3 separate regions of the Homo sapiens genome follow, and regions 1 and 3 are each linked to region 2. Evidence: fine-mapped expression QTL. A gene starts in region 2. Each other region holds a variant in brackets. All regions are shown on one strand. Distances are between the middles of the regions.

Region 1 (5,186 bases), 760 kb before region 2:
TGGAACCTGGGCAGCCAGGTGGGCTGGTGGCTCTCAGCTGCCCTCCACGAGGTTGGGGCACCCCTGATCCCCAGGCCTGCCTTGCCCTCTGCTCTTCTGGCACCAGGCTGGGCAGTGCAGACAGCGCAGCCCTGCAGCCTTCAGGACACCTTGTTCCCAGGCCCTGCAATCCACCAAGCTGGATAGATGGGGCCCCCCTTGATGGTAGCGGGAGGTCAGGGGTAACCCCAGGGCCCTGCTGCTGCCTTACCTTGCTGGGGTGACTGCTTGATTAAAGACCCCAAGACTGGACCAGGCCCTGGTGTCCCCAGACCTGCAGCTATGGCCCAACAAGGCAGGTGTTTGAGGAGGCCCTGCACAGGGTCCCAGGACTGCACCAGGGGCCTCATCAGCAACCTGCTGAACTGGTGGTGTGAGGGGAGGGTGGGCTCCCTTGGTGGTATCCTCCCTCTACCCCAGTGGGGGCTGGTGGGCCCTGAGATGGAGGCATCTCCTTGGGCCCTGCTGAGGATGGCAGTAGTGGGTGAGCTCCTGGTGGGGGGATGGGTGTGGGGCCGACTCCTCCATCCCACATGGGCTCCTGTGCCTCTCCCTATCAGTTGGCCAGTGGAGCTCGAGAACAAACTGTTGCTGCCAGATAAAGCAGCAAAGCCTGCTCCACTGCCCAGCGCAGGCCCCCTTCCCTTCCTCCACCAGGCTGAGTGGAGAACCCTAAAGCTACGGGACAGGCTCCCGTTCCCCGTGCCTACACAGGGTGCTGGCTCTGGCAGAAAGACAGTGTGCCCGCCCCGCATCACCTGTCCGAGTGCGAACACCTTGGGAAGGGGGTTCCTGGTGGTCCTGTGACAACCAGAGACCCCCAGGGCCAAGGTGAGGCGCCCACCCCTGGTCCCTCAATAAAGAACTGCAAGCACATGCTGGTCCTGGGGAGTCGGGCAGGCACGGAGCTAGCTGCAAGCATCCGTCTTCCCCCAGGAGGCCACTGCAGCCCGGCCCTTCTGTGCCCTGGGCCCCTCCTCATTGCAGCACCACCCACCGCACCACCCTGGGACAGAGGAAACACATGGAGGCCATAGCATAGAGCCTGTCTGTTTATAGATCTCTGCCTGTCTTGTCCGTCCATCCACTGTGTGTATATATCTGTGTATCTCTGTGGAGCGGGGAACGGGACAGTTGTGTAAAAATCCAAAATACAATTCTGACTATGAACAACCTGCAGGGTCAGTCCAGGTGTGGCTGTGAAGCCCCAACCAAACCACAGGACACGGGGTTGGGGGAAGGCAGACTGGCAGGCCAGGGTGACCCTCCTGACCAGAGGTGCTGCCCAGACCCGAGCCCGTTTGTCCTACTGGGGCTATGGCGGCCGACCCACCAGTGCCCAAGACCGCGAGGCTGCCCTGCCTCCCCAAGACCAGCCCTGCACTGGGGGTGGGGGTGGGCGGCTGGCCCAGCTCCTCCGGGGCCTCTAGGAGACAGTGGGGTCCTTGGCTTTGGGAGGCTCCGAGCCTGTCAGCAGGGAGATGGTGGGGTCCTCGGCGAAGCCGTCCCCTTCGGAGAAGTAGGAGCCCTCTCCCAGCTCAAACAGCACCGGCAGGTCGTTGCTCCCGGTGTCCACGGAGCCGGGGTCCAGCAGGAACAGCGGCTGCGCTGTGTAGTGCACCAGCTGCTTCCCTGCGGGGGTGGGGGTGTCAAGGCGGTGGGGGGTTGGGGGCAGAGGTGGGGCCGGTGGGACTTGGCTCACCTGAATCCGGGCTGCTGTTCTCTGCCTCGGGAGGCCTGGGGGGCTCCTGGGGAGACAGGAGCTCTTGGATCTGTGGGGTGGAGACGGTATTGTGAGCACTCCCGCTGGTCTCGTTCCCCCTCACCCCCCGCCCGCCTACGCACACTGGCCAGGCTGCTGTCAAGGTCAGGCAGGCTCATGTCGGGCACGGTCACCGAGGGGCTGAACAGCTGCGGAGGAGGGAGGGAAGTCAGAACAGCACCCGGGGGCGGGGCGGGGAGGCGGGGCGGGGAGGCGGGGCGGGGAGGCGGGGAGGCGGGGCGGGGAGGCGGGGAGGCGCGGGGAGGCGGGGCGGGGAGGCGGGGCGGCGGCGCGGGGAGGCGGGGAGGCGGGGCGGGGAGGCGGGGCGGCGCGGCGGGGAGGCGGGGCGGGGAGGCGGGGCGGCGGGGCTCCACTCACGTCCAGCAGGGCACTGGTGTCCACGCTGAAGCCGTGGCTGCTCAGCATGGTCTGCAGGTTATCCAGGTTGGAGTCCATAGCATCCAAGTGGTCACTGAGCTCATTCCTGGCCCGGGATAAGGCGGTACCTGAACCAGTGCCCCAGGCCCCACACCCCAATGCCCTCCTGTGGGAGAAGGGCTCCCCTTGACTGTACCCCCCAGGCTGCACCCCCGTGTACGCCTGCACAGGCTGGAGGGGGCAGCGCATTCGAGGACGGCCTGGAAGGCAGTGGAGGCTCTGTGCCCTGCAGGGGTGCGGCTGGGCCTATGCTGGGCATCCCTTTGCCATGAGGGCCTGGGGGCCTTGGTGGCAGTGGACCCAGGAGACAAGGGGCGTATTCAGCTCCAGCACAAGGATCAGGGATTTCAGTGTTCAGGGTTGGTGAGGTTTCCCGTTGCACTGGGAAAACAGGTGGGGCTCTGCTCAGTGTGTGGGTGGCTCAGTCCCTGCCCTGGTGCTGCTGTGGGGATGAGACCCACGGTCTGGTGGCTGTGACCAAGAAAGCCCTAGGCCACAGGGCACACCTGGGCTATGGGACGGACAGCCAGGCTGGGTCCCAGAGGTGCCCTGGAGACCCTGCCTGACAGGAAGTGCAGTCAGCACCGCAGTCTGGATCCTGCCAACACCAGAGGCCGTGCCAGAGCAGGGAGGCCTGTCCCTGTCATCCCTGTCACAGGCAATGACCACAGGCCCGTGGCCAGGGGAGCCATGACGACACTGAGCCCCCGCCACAGAGGGGTCTCGGCTGCTGCCGCCCAGGCCC[G/A]ACGCTCATGCCCGGCCAGGCTGGGTCTGGTCCACGGCTGTGTGGGAGGGCCCGAGCGCTGGCAGAGCCCTCCTCCCTCCCCAGTGGGGTCAGCGCTAACCCTGGCTGGACTTGGCCATGCGGAGAGGAAGAGGGGCAGGGGAAGAGGCGGGCGACCCTAGACATCTGTGGAGTGCGAGCCAAACTGCAAGATACAAAAACAAGAGCCCCCATTGCAGGCAGGGGCTGGGGGTGTGGAGGCCGGCCCTGCTCACCATCTCCTGCCATGTGTCTGGGCAGCACGACCTGCCAGGGCCCGTGGCCTGTGGCGAGGGTGGCGGCAGCAGGACGGGTGGCTGAGAGCAGGGCCCGGCAGCCTGTCCGGACATGCCCGTGGCTTCTGTGGCGTTTGGGACTGTGGGGTGATCTGGCTGGCACCTGTCTCCCTCCCCAGCCCCGAGCTCCGAGGTTGGGGGTAGGGTCCTGCCTCGCCAGCTGCCCTGCTCAGTCCACTGGGACAGTCGGGGCTGAAGCCCAGGGCTGTGCGTCCAGGCGCTGTGGGTGGGGCCAGGGGTGGGCGGCACTCACTTGTCCAGGCAGGCTACGCTGAGGCACTTTTCAGGGGTGGAGGTGGGCGGGGGGGAGGGAGGCCGGCCCTCGGTGTCCGTGTGGCCCCTGGCGTCCGTGAGGGCTGTGACGGAGGCGGGGGCAGGTTCACTCTCCCGCAGGATGGAGTCAATGAGGGCGGTCGGGGACAAGAGGGTGTCCACGGAAGATGGGCGCCCGGGACTCGCCTCCTCTACCCGGGGGCTCTGAGGCGGGCTGGGGGGCTCCTCCTTGACACGCACCAGGGGGCTGCTGGATAGGGGCCTGCACACGAGGGGGGCCAGGTGAGCTGGCGTCTCGGCCAGCCCCACCTCATCCCCAACTCTGCCCTGGGCCCACAGGGGCTCGCCTCATTGGGGGACAGGATGGCTGGGGTGATGCGGCCCCCACCTCTCGTCTATGCTCCCGCCGGGGGAGGCCATGGGGCTGGCAGGAGCCAGCTCGGTGATGTCGGAGATGATGGGTCCAGAGCTGGCCACAGCATCAGGGGCGTAGAGGCTGGAGCTGCTGTAGGCTGGGGAGGGGGCCTGCAATCAAAGGCAGGAGGTCCATGCAGTGCCGGCAGGGGCAACCCACCCCACTGCCGCCTGCATGCCTGGGCGGGTGCCCTGTCTCCGGCACTCACCGAGTAGGGGCCCGAGCCGTGGACGTGCTCCAGGGAGAACTGCCGGCTATACTTGGGCATGGAATGTGCTGAGCCACTGTCGTTCAGCATCAGGGGGCTGTGGGGAAGGGTGCAGGTCAGCCACCACCCCCCACCTCGGGGTACCCGGGGCACAGCTGACAGAGAAGGGGGACAGCCCTGGGCCCCGGGTGGTGGATGCAGGCATCCCCAAAACCTCACATCTTTCTCTTCACCCCCAGGATCCGGTTTGACTGCACCAGTGAGATCAGGAACTGAATGAGCTGTGGAGAGAGAGGACACAGTTACCCCGGCCCTTGTGGGGCCCCCGCCGGCCCTCTGGCCCTGCCCCCACCTTGTTGACGACTTTCTGTTGCTGGGCATGCTTCTGCCGAAGGCTGGCCACCTCCCGCCACAGAGCCTCATTCTCACTGCAACAGACCAGGCTGGGTCAGTGGGGCCCAATCCCATGAGCCCCAGGGCTGAGGGAGCCCCACAGACCCTCCCTGTCCCCCATGCAGGAGCAGGGGTAAGTGTGACCATGTCTGGCCTGGCCCACCCCAGGATGAGAACTTGTGTGTGGAGGGACTGGGGGCCAGGGCCAGGGCTTGCTGGTCCCACTGCCCCTCCCTGCCGGGGACACCTGGTGTCACGTAGGGTGTTGGGGATGGATCCATGCGAGCCAGGTGCACCCGGATCCTGGCATCCATCCTGGCAAACACCTGGAGGGCTGCCTTGGACACAGGCCAGGAGCAGACCCTTGGGCCGCCCTTCCAAGGCCTGAGCAGCCAGGTTAAGGGAGGACGGTTCTTCAGGCTGCGACACTGGCTGTCCCATGTCCTGTAGGTGCTCAGGGCCCTCGCCAGGCCTGGAGGTGGCTCAGGGGTGGGGAAGAGCTGTCCCCAGCCAGGTGAGCAGGGCCATGACCGCGCTCCTGCTGCTCTGGGAGGCTGGGCCCTGTCAAGCCTGTGAGTCTTCTTGGTAGGCCAGGTCCA
Region 2 (5,209 bases):
CCGGGCAGGGAAAACCGGCCCGAGCCCTCCCGCTTGTGGGTGCGCGTGACTTCCACCTCCTTCTGTGTCTGCAGCACCTCAGTCACCACGTACACGTTGTCCCCGCGGCTGCGCAGCTGCTGCAGGACTTTGTGTTCTGGCTGCCGCAGGTGCCTGTGTCCGAGGAGCAGCAAAGCTCGCTGGGCCGCAGCCCCTGAAGGCGTCTTCCCTCCCCTGACAGCCCCACGCCACCGGGGGAGGTGGTGCAGAGGGGCCCTCCAGAGGTCTGTGGGTGCCGGGGCACCGGCAGCCTCTCCGTGTGCTCCCCACGGGGACGGGACCCCATGAGGAAAGGTGGACTCGGGGACTCCAAGTCCAGACTCGAGGTGCGGCCCCCTCACCTGGGCCCCCGTGTTCACACCACCCCTTGTCCTCACAGCAGCCTGGGGCTCAGTCCGGTCCTTAGGATCCAGTCCTGGCAGCGGAGGCCCCAGATGACCCCTGCAGCTTCCTTCCTGCAAGCTGGTTCCGGCCACAGCGCTCTTTTGCCTCTGGGACTTTCCTGATGCCCCAAGGTTGTGACCTTCCCAAGAGCAAGGCTGGGACCTGGCACAGTGGCTCACCCCTGTAATCCCAGCACTTTGGGAGGCCGAGGCAGGAGGACTGCTTGAGGCCAGGAGTTCAAGACCACCCTGGCCGAGATAGCAAAACCTCACCTCAAAAAATAATTTAAATAAATAAATAAATAAAAGCAGGGTTGCTTGGGGTAGGTGGGGCCCTGCCCTGCCCTGCCCTCTTCGGGCCCACCTCTCATGGAGCAGAGTCTGCCAGGTGTTAGGGTCCACACTCAGCGAGTACACATTCATTGAGGTGCTGGAGCTGTCAGACACCGCGGCCCCGCCTGCGATCTTTGCCTGTCCTGGGGCTGCCAGCTCCACGCTGCCCTGTATCTGCCCATCCATGGCATCGTAGAAGTGGAAGCTCCTGCCACGCTGCACGTCTAAAGCAAGGCCAGACCTGAGGCTGTGCCCAGCGCCCCGCCTCTCCCCCGCCCCCACCAGCCCTGTCCCAGCCCCAGGGCAGAGGGACCTTTGGAAAGGCCCCGGCCTCTGGAAGAGAGGCCCAGAGCTAGAGGCTGCAGAGCCCAGTGGATGGTTGGCCCCAGCCCGCTCCCCTCTCCCATCCAGCCTCCCTGGGGCTCTGCCTCAGCACCACATCAGGCACCTGGTTCCGCGGCATCCGGCTCCAGGATGTCCTTGATAGACAGGTTGACACACTTATAACGGGGTTTCCAGAACCATGAGCTTGAGGGCTTCCTAACCACCAGGCAGTAGGGCTGGAAGCCAGTGGAGCTCTGCAGGCTGGTCACAGGGATGAACTCCCCACCATGGTCCAGCTCCTGGACCACTCTCCGGACTACCCGCTCAAAGGCCGACCCCATGCTCCTGAGGAGGGGAAATGGGTCAGGCATTGTGCTCTCGGGGCGGGCGGGAGGGAGTGGGAGAAGGGTCAGTACTTGGATGTCTCCCATGATGGGGGACTCCTTCCCTCCAGAACAGCCCTGCCCAGCTCATCCTGGGATGCTCCCACTAGCAGAAAGCTTCTGTCCCCGGCCCTCCCCAACACAGAATTACAGTGTTCTCCCTGTTGTCTACGGTACCATGAGCACCTCCAGCCAGGGACAGTGAGGCCTGACGCCCAGACCTGCTCTAACACAGAGGGCTCTGTCCACTAGAATGGCTGCCTCTGGCTGGGAGGAAACAAGCTGTCACCTCCTGAGCGTGGTGCAGGGACCCACTGCAAAACCCAGCCAGAGTGTCACCAGGGACCCACTGCAAAACCCAGCCAGAGTGTCGCCCCACCCCAGCTGCGTCCTCCAGGGCCTTCTCTGTGCCTGGAGCTCCATGAGCCACCTGTCCAAGGCTGAGGCTTTGGGGGTCAGAGGCCATAGCGGGCCTCCGCTGGGATAGGGGGCACCTGGGCCACTGTGGAGGGGCTGCAGCTGCCCCAGGAAGCCTCTGAGTGCTGGGTCTGCTGAAAGTGGAGGCTGGGCCCAGAAGGCAGCTGGGGGCGGGAACAGCACCGGCCCGGGAACCTGGATGGCGGACCTGGGAGTCAAGCCCAAGCCCAGGTCCAAAGGCCGGGCCCCTGGGCTGGCCAGGGGCAGCCTTTCCCGAAGCCTGGAGCTTCCGCCCCCGTGTGCGGCGCGGGGCCTTCTGGGCGAACGCTGGGGCAGCAGGGCCAGCATCCCCCACCCGGGAGCCAGCGGCCGGCCCCACTCGGGAGCTCCAGCCAGGCCGGGGGAGGGGGCGGGGCGCAGCTCACCGTGACCGTCGGCGCCCCGAGGGTGGCGCGTCTGGCGCGTCTGCTCTCCCTGGGAGCCGTCCGGCGAGCAGGAGCTGGAGGTGCCCAGAGCTAAAAGTGAAACTGCAACCTGACGCAGGGCCCGCCCAGGACGCCCTCCCGGAACCGTCCCGGAGAGCCCGCCCCGGCCCCCTTCCTGCCCCCTCTTCCCGCCAGCCCGCCTGGAGCACCAGCCTCGCGCGTCCGGAGGAACCTTGGCTTGGCGCCCCATCCTGGTAGCCTCAAACTTCATAGCACTTTGTGGTTTTTCTTAAAACTCTGAGCCTGTGCCCGGGCGGATCACCTGAGGTCGGGAGTTCAAGACCAGACTGACCAACATGGTGAAACCCCGTCTCTACTAAAAATACAAAATTAGCCCGGCGTGGTGGCGCATGCCTGTGATCCCAGCTACCTGGGAGGCTGAGGCAAGAGAATCGCTTGAACCTGGGAGGTGTAGGTTGCAGTGAGCCGAGATCATGCCATTGTACTCCAGCCTGGGCGACAGAGTGAGACTCCGTCTCAAAAACAAACAAGCAAACAAACAACTTTGGGCCTGTGCCGAAGGGTCTGGGCAGATCTTCCAAAGATGTACAAAATGTAGAAATTGCCCTCAAGCAAATGCAAAGATGCTCAACACCCTTAGTCATCAAGGAAATGCAAATGGAATCCACAGAGAGATACTGCACACTGACAAAGATGGTCGTATTACTAAAGGTGAATAACCAGCGCGGGGGGCACGTGGAGTCACTGGAACATTTGTGCAATGCTGGTGGGAATGTCAACCCGTGCGGCCCTCTGGAATAAGCCTGGCAGCTCCTCCAAGAGTTACCGTGTGACCCAGCAATTCCACTCCTAGCTCCACCCACAGGAATTGAAAGCAAAGACGCAAACAGATGCCTGTGCACCAAAGTTCACGGCAGCATCCTTCGCCATAGTGGCAGCATCCGTCGTCACAGCGGCATCATCCTTCATCATAGCGGCAGCATCCGTCGTCACAGCGGCAGCATCCTTCGCCACAGCGGCAGCAGCTGTCGTCACAGCGGCATCATCCTTCGCCATAGCGGCAGCATCCTTCGCCAAAGCGGCAGCATCCTTCACCATAGCGGCAGCATCCTTCGCCATAGCGGCAGCATCCTTCGCCATAGCGGCAAGGTGGAAACCCTGTCCATCCACTGAGGCGTGCATAGACTAAACATGGCCAGTCCAGGCACTGGAATCCAGGCCGTAGAACGGCGCCCACGGTCAAAAGGAATGAGACCCTGATGCACTGGGCGACACAGACGGGCGACACAGACTTGGAGACATCATGCTAAGTGAAAAGCCAGGCACACGGAGCGGACGGCGTGATCCTGCTCACGTGATGTGTCCCGAATGGGCACGTCCAGAGGGAAGAAGGGAGATGGCGCTGCCGGTGCCCGGGACGGGGGTTGGGAGCGACGGTTGCTGGTTTGGGGTTTCTTTCTGGGGTGAGGAAGTGTTTTGATATTGGCCGTTGGTGATGTTTGCATACCTCTGAATATGCTAAGACCCACAGAATTGCACACTTTAAATGGATGAATTGTATGGTATGGGAATTACACAATTATGTCTCATTAAAGCAGTTATTTTAAAAATCTAGTGCCCAGTAGCAACACCTAGTCTCGGCACAGGCTCCCTCAGTGCCCTACTGACCTAAGTCATGGTGGGCCCAGGGCCATGGGCCCACCCCTGCACACGGTAGTCCTCCCACCCGGCCCTCCCAGCCGCTCCGCGGTTGTGGATGGGGCTACTTGGGCTTCGGCCCCACTCCTAGGCCTGACCACAGTGGGGACACAGTGGTGCCCTGCGGGTCCCTGCTGGTGCTGTCTCCTGGCTGTTTTGTGTATTTTTTGTTGTTTGTTTTGTTTTGTGTGAGGCAAGATCTCTCTGTCGCCCAGGCTGGAGTGCAGTGGCACAATCACCACTCACTGCAGCCTCGACCTCCTGGGCTCAAGTGATCCCCTCCTGTCAGTCTCCTGAGTAGCTGGGACTACAGGTGCTCAGCACCACACCTGGCAAAGTTTTCGTTTTTGTTTTGAGACTGAGTCTTGCTCTGTCACCAGGATGGAGTGCAGTGGCGTGATCTCAGCTCATTGCAACCTCTGCCTCCCAGGTTCAAGCGATTCTCCTGCCTCAGCCTCCCGAGTAGTTGGGACTACAGGCATGTACCACCACACCCGGCTAATTTTGTGTCTGTGTGTGAGAGACGGAGTGTTGCTCTTTTTTGCCCAGACTGGAGTGCAATGGCACAACCTCAGCTCATTGCAATCTCTGCCTCCCGGGCTCAAGCAATTCTCCTGTCTCACCCTCCCGAGTATCTTGGATTACAGGTGCCCGCCACCACGCCCAGCTAATTTTGTATTTTTAGTAGAGACAGGGTTTTACCATGTTGGCCAGGCTGGTCTCGATCTCTTGACCTTGCTATCCACCCGCCTTGGCCTTCCAAAGTGCTGGGATTACAGGCGTGAGTCACCGCACCTGGCTGTAAGTTTTTAAAATTATTTAATTTTCAGTAGAAAGGTCTCACTATGTTGCCCAGGCTGGTCTTGAACTTCTGAGCTCAAGTGATCCTCCCGCCTCAGCCTCCCAAAGTGCTGGGATTCCAGGGCTGAGCCACTACACTGGGCTTGGGTACTGTTTTGCAGACCAGGTGGGTCTAAGGTTTCATCTCAGGACACACTGCTGGGCAGAGCTGACCTTCCTCCGTGACCCCGGCAGGCAAGGAGCCCACACACTGCTGCCCCTGGAAGCCAGCGCCCTGGGGTGTGGCAGCCCGTCCCTGCTGGGTAACAGGGCCAGCACGTGCTGAGCTGTTGTGCTGCAGCCTCCATGGTGAAGATGGAAGGAGCCGGGCACACAGCATCCCTGC
Region 3 (5,214 bases), 53 kb after region 2:
TGGCTAGCTCCTGAAGCGTCGGCTGCCAGGCGCCCTGGGGATGTGTGTGCCACATGGGTTGAGGGTTTTATCCACGGGGCGATGGAGGGTCTTCAAGCTCCGGCGGAGGCGGTGGGCAGAGCTGGCACTGTGGGTGGCCTCTCTGACCCTACCCTTGCCGGCCTTCCCTGACCCATGTCTGTGCCCTGGGTTTTCTCTACAGCGTCCAGCCTGCATGCCGTGCGGACTGCACCCACCAGCAAGGTGATCAAGACCCGCTACCGCATTGTCAAGAAGACGCCGGCCTCGCCTCTCAGCGCCCCGCCCTTCCCCCTGTCTCTGCCCTCCTGGCGGGCCCGGCGGCTCTCACTATCCAGGTAGGAAGGCTTCCTGCAGGCTCCTGCAGGCCTGGGAACTGGGCTGTCTGGCCCTGCCCTGAGGGCTGCAGGGTAGAATCCAAGGGCCAGGGGGAGCTGAGCACATCCCAGAACTGCTTGGTGTTGGGCTCGTTGGCTGGGGACCAGCCTGATTTTTCTGTGTCTTTAGCAATTTCTGCACCAAATAGGAGGCCAGCTTGTGTTTACCACATACACGTGAAGACGGACGGACACACATGCACACACATGCTCTGCTGTTCTCAGCAAGCCTATTAGCTGGTGAGGGCTCTGTGCCATGAAAGCTTCTGCTGCCCAGACGGTCAGGGCCCACGCCATGTGCTGTCTGAGCATCTCTCGGGGAGAAGCTTCTGGTGGGAGAGGCTGGGCCTTCAGTGGTCTGTCTGGAAGCTGTCAATGTATGATTGTCAAGGCGGTGATGTGAGCTACTCCTTGCCCTGCTGCTGGCTGCCTGTCCGTGTTCTGGCCCCCACTCGCACTCTGACCTCGATGCAGGCTGGGAGGGCGGCTCTGTCGGCAGGGAACAGCTTTTGCCCTCCTGGGGCCGCTATCCCGGGAGGCTTTGCCACCTGCTCAGTCAAGGTTGCTCAGCCTCTGGGCCTCAGGAGGCCTGGCTCTAGGAGGTTGGCCCCTTCCTTTGCTGTGGTGGTGGTGCCCCATCTCCAGGTTGGGAGAGGGTAATAGCTCTGGCAGGCAGATGGGAAGCAGGCAGTGGCAGACCCCTCCCTCTGTCTTCTGACCCTCCCCGCGGGAATCTGCTCCTGGGGGAGTGGCGTGGGCCAGAGATGGTGGGCAGGGCCTCAGGGCGAGCAGCCACGGCCCAGGGCACGGCCACCCACCGGACCGTAGCTGCCTGGTGGTTCCCTGCTGCTAGCCAGAGGTTTCCAGGCCTGAGGCTAACCCCAGGGGATCCACCCACCAGTATGGACAGCCCTACCCAGCTCTGGAGCCTCGTGGCAGGTCAGCCAGCTGGCGAGCCCACCAGGTGGTGTCCTGCTGCCTCCCGTATCACCAGGCCACACTCAGCTTGGCCCTGCTGCTGAGTTTTCTGGAGGCAATAGCTGGAGTATATTTTAAATTAATTTTACTGCACTTTTTGTAATATTTTTGTTTTAAATAGATTTATAAGCATCTCGGGGGCTATTTCTGCAAATTTATGAAGATAATTTTTATTCTCTCGATAAGGTTAAATTTACACCTGCTATTTCCATATTAATTCACATTGCTAAGTGGATCTAATTTTCTTCCGTTCTTCTATCTGGTGAGCATGGCCTTTCCTAATGCAATTTCCCCCACACTAAATCACTGTGATCGGGAGTCATGATCGAGCTAAATTAACTTAAATTAATTTACTTAATAAGAGCCCCGGATCATCGGGAATGAGGTTCAGATTTATGGATTCTCCGCTCCTGCTTCCCGTCCTGTGGTCGTCGTCAGCCCGACGTCGAGGGTCCACCTCTCCCAGGGGTGCGGCTCGGGGCCAAGTGATGATTTTCCTCAGGGCGGACCCAGCAGGGCCTCTCCTTCTGGATTCTGAAGGCCAAGAAGGCGTCTGGTTTGGGTCCGGCTGGTCTGGTTCCTGTAGCTGGGCCTGCCCAGGAGGGCCCTGATGGTGTTGTTGCACAGAAACAAGTGCCCATGCCCTGGGGCTGAGGAGGCCGGGAGGAGGAGGAGGTGGCAGCCGGCCCAGCGCCCAGGGCCTCCTGTCGGCGCCATGTGGCTGAGAGCAGCGGGTCAGCTGATAGGCTCCCTCCAAGTTCCCTGTCCTTCCAAAGTGAAGCCTGGCCAGCTGCCCTGCAGGGAGCGGCCGTGACTCTCTGAGTGCCCTGGTGTAGGGGCTGCACCACAGGCATGGGTGGGCAGGAGGTGGAGCAGGCATCGCCTTTGATGGATCAAGGGCCCCAGCACCAGAAGCCTGAATTCAGCCCACCCCTGGAGGCCCTGGCTGTGGTTGGTGGCCATGGGCTCCAGGCCTCAGTGTCTTCTCCGTGTGTGAAGGCCAGGCTGAGTCCGCCCCAGGATGCACATGTGGCTGAGGGGGTGTGTGAGGGGCCCTCCTTGCTTTCCTGACCGCCTCACCCCAGTCCTGTTCCACTCCTTGCCAGGC[G/A]TCTGGGACCCTTCGGGACACGAACCCTGGGCTTGTGGATAGGGTGTGGGAGTGGAGTGGGGAGGGTGCTGAGCTGAGGGGCACGACTCTTAGGAAGTCCTGGGAAGAATGGCCACCAGTGGGCTGGGCCTGCCTCGCCCAGGGTCACCTGCCACCTGCGTCCCAGCATGGCTGCCTGGCCTGCTGTTGCCTGTTTGCGTGCCTGGGCTCGGGGTTGTTTAGGCAGAAAGGGCGTCTGGGCCAGCGGCTGGTCTAGCCTGGCCCATGCGCCATCTCCGGTGCTGCATCAGAGCCAGGGCTGCCTGCATGTGGCTGGACCCTCAGCCCTCCCTCGGCAGGCCCAGGCCACCATGGACTAAGGGCTGCCATGGAGAGGAAGAAGGCAGGCTGTCCTGCCAGTTGGCTGGCTGGAGCCTGAGACCAGAGCTCTCCTTGGGCCCCAGCTCCCTCTCCCATCCCTGGAGGGGCTGGCGGGCAAGCCCCAGCAGTCCTGGAAGCCACGGTGGTCAGAGTTGGCAGGGGCTGGTGGACACGCGGGAGGGGAGGGAGGCAGGGTGACTAGTGGCTGAGGGACAGCGCCGGTGTGGGATGCCCCAGCCGACCCCTCACTGTGATTGGAGATCTGGTCACCCTGAGAGGAAGTCATCTAGGCCTCTTGCCCTCAGAGCCTTAGCATCTTGCTCTGTTGCTGAAGCAAACCCGCGAGTTCCGAGCATGGAGCCGGGCCTGCTCTCTGTGAAGCTGCCAGCTCCTGGGAGATGGACGAGGCCAACAGCACTGCTCTGGGAGGAGAGGGAGCCGCTGGCAGAGGCTCTGCGAAGGGACGGCAGTGGGGAGTACAGTGAGGCCCAGGGGGCTCTGAGTGTTGAGGGAAGGCCCTGGGGGTCTGTGTGTGAAGGCCAGGCTGACCCTGCCCCAGGATGCACATGAAGGTCCCAGGTGCTGGGAGTGGCTGAGCATCTTGGGTAGGGTGTAGTTGGGGGCAGCGCAGTGCAGCGTGAACCTGACAGCCCGTCCCTGCCTGCTTGTACCATGCGAAATGGGTAGGGTCTCTAGGCTTGATTGTGGTGGGGTGTTCAGGACAGGGCCTGAGCTGGAACCCCAAAGACGGAGGAGGGGGCAGGACCTCTACCACCCGTCCTGAGAGGAATGGGACTGGGCCCTGCCCAAGGTGGGGACAAGAAACAGTAACACAGGCTGCCGCAGTGAAGCTTGCACAGCTCTGCTGCTGACAACAGCCCTCACCTTGTCCTCTCTCTGACCCTGTCCCTGGGACCTCCCCTGCCCTCTTTTCCCGTCCCCTCCCCTTGGCTGTGATGCTCATGGCGGGGACTGCACCGCCCTGAGGAGGCACGAGAAGGGGCCCCTCTCCTGGCCATGAGCCCCCAGGACCCCTCTGCAGTTCCTCTCAGCTTTCGGTTGGAGAGCCCCAGGCCCTGAGCTATTGGCCCTAGCTCTGCCCTGGGCACTGGGGAGGGCTCAGGGTGATTAGGCCTGTTCCCTCCTCTGGGAAGCTCTAGAAACTCCCCTTCCCTGCAGCCCGAGGGAAGGAGGGTAGGCAAGTGAGTGCCCGGCCTGAGTCTAGGCCTCTGCCCTGTCCCAGGGGGTGATTTGGCACACGCGCCCTCTCTCTCCCCCTCCTAATTTAAGTAGAAACTTACTGTCGGCCTGGTGGTCATGTTGGGCCCATGTGGAAGGCTGGAGGACAGCGTCAGGGCCCGTTGATGGCTGGGTTTGTAATAGGGGCTGGGGCCTCTCCTCCCTGTCAGCGGCTTTCTCTGGACCTGAACATGGAGGAGGCGGTGGGGAGCCAGCTGGGTGCTGGAGGAGGTAGGTGGTCGGGAGATGGCTGGGTGCTGGAGGAGGTGGTCGGGGGATGGCTGGGTGCTGGAGGGGATGGTGGTGGAGCCGGCTGGGTGCTGGGGGAGGTGGTGGTGGAGACAGTTGGGTGCTGGAGGAGGTGGTGGTGGAGACAGTTGGGTGCTGGAGGAGGTGGTGGTGGAGCCGGCTGGGTGCTGGGGGAGGTGGTGGTGGAGCCGGCTGGGTGCTGGGGGAGGTGTTGGGGAGATGGCTGGGTGCTGGAGGAGGTGGTCGGGGGATGGCTGGGTGCTGGGGGAGGTGGTCGGGAGATGGCTGGGTGCTGACCAGTGGCCTCAGGTTTGTGGCCGGCCAGTGCTCGTCGTTGTCAGATGGAAGGCAGAGGCTGCTGGGCAGTAGCTTCTGGGGCTTCTGTGTGCTGCCAGCCAGGGTCTCTGAGGATGGGCACACCATTGAGGCACACGCCAGACATCATGTGTGGAGACTGGGGTGGGGCAGAGGGTGGGAGGAGAAAAGGAGCAGTGCCTGTATGCCAAGGGCAGAACGGGACTCCTGCCTCAACGGGTGGCATCCACGGTGCCACCTGTGCTCCCATCAGAGGCCGCGTTGCCCTGGCCTGCAGATGCCCGGCCATGTGGCTGCTTGGGGCGGGGCAACAGCTGACGGGGGCATGCTGGCGGTGTGCTGGCCATGTGCCACCTCTCCCCAGAAGCTGAGGCATGGGACTGGGTTGTTCTGCTGAGCGTGGTGCCCGTCGCATCTGCCAAATACACAGGACGGGGCTGTTGCTCTGGCTCGGGGACCCTGGGAGCTTACTGTACTGCTGCCTTACGCATACCTCGGCCATGCCACAGTGGTCCCTGAGAGCCGGCCTTGGCCAGCCCTCCCCCGGGCCCCAGGACTGCTGCCTTGAAG

Evidence for each region. PIP is the estimated chance that this variant, and not a neighbour inherited with it, causes the effect.
Region 1: its variant is the best candidate, but not a certain one, in a credible set for the expression of GSDMD in memory regulatory T cells (Schmiedel 2018, PIP 0.90).
Region 3: its variant is the best candidate, but not a certain one, in a credible set for the expression of GSDMD in whole blood (TOPMed, PIP 0.56).

Annotation. Positions count from the first base shown.
Region 1 is chr8:144,310,610-144,315,795 of GRCh38, reverse strand. It overlaps HSF1 (heat shock transcription factor 1), which reads right to left. Exons shown (of 13, transcript NM_005526.4): 5 at 4,547-4,622; 6 at 4,414-4,475; 7 at 4,195-4,291; 8 at 3,960-4,096; 9 at 3,552-3,833; 10 at 2,180-2,285; 11 at 1,885-1,950; 12 at 1,742-1,811; 13 at 1,076-1,671. The coding sequence ends at 1,466. It overlaps DGAT1 (diacylglycerol O-acyltransferase 1), which reads left to right. Exons shown (of 17, transcript NM_012079.6): 17 at 1-1,212. LOC124902050 reads left to right here and starts at 226. Exons shown (of 2, transcript XM_047422537.1): 1 at 226-870; 2 at 976-1,212. The coding sequence starts at 226. The coding sequence ends at 846. RefSeq lists an enhancer at 2,480-3,011. The variant G/A (reference allele first, on the strand shown) is at 2,985.
Region 2 is chr8:143,555,547-143,560,755 of GRCh38, reverse strand. It overlaps GSDMD (gasdermin D), which reads right to left and starts at 2,410. Exons shown (of 11, transcript NM_024736.7): 1 at 2,305-2,410; 2 at 1,204-1,424; 3 at 787-979; 4 at 1-153. The coding sequence starts at 1,420. LOC100310756 (a long non-coding RNA gene) reads left to right here and starts at 2,485. Exons shown (of 1, transcript NR_147504.1): 1 at 2,485-3,937. RefSeq lists an enhancer at 1,954-2,595.
Region 3 is chr8:143,502,888-143,508,101 of GRCh38, reverse strand. It overlaps ZC3H3 (zinc finger CCCH-type containing 3), which reads left to right. Exons shown (of 12, transcript NM_015117.3): 4 at 203-356. SNORD149 (small nucleolar RNA, C/D box 149) reads left to right here and starts at 1,854; the gene lies at 1,854-1,917. The variant G/A (reference allele first, on the strand shown) is at 2,482.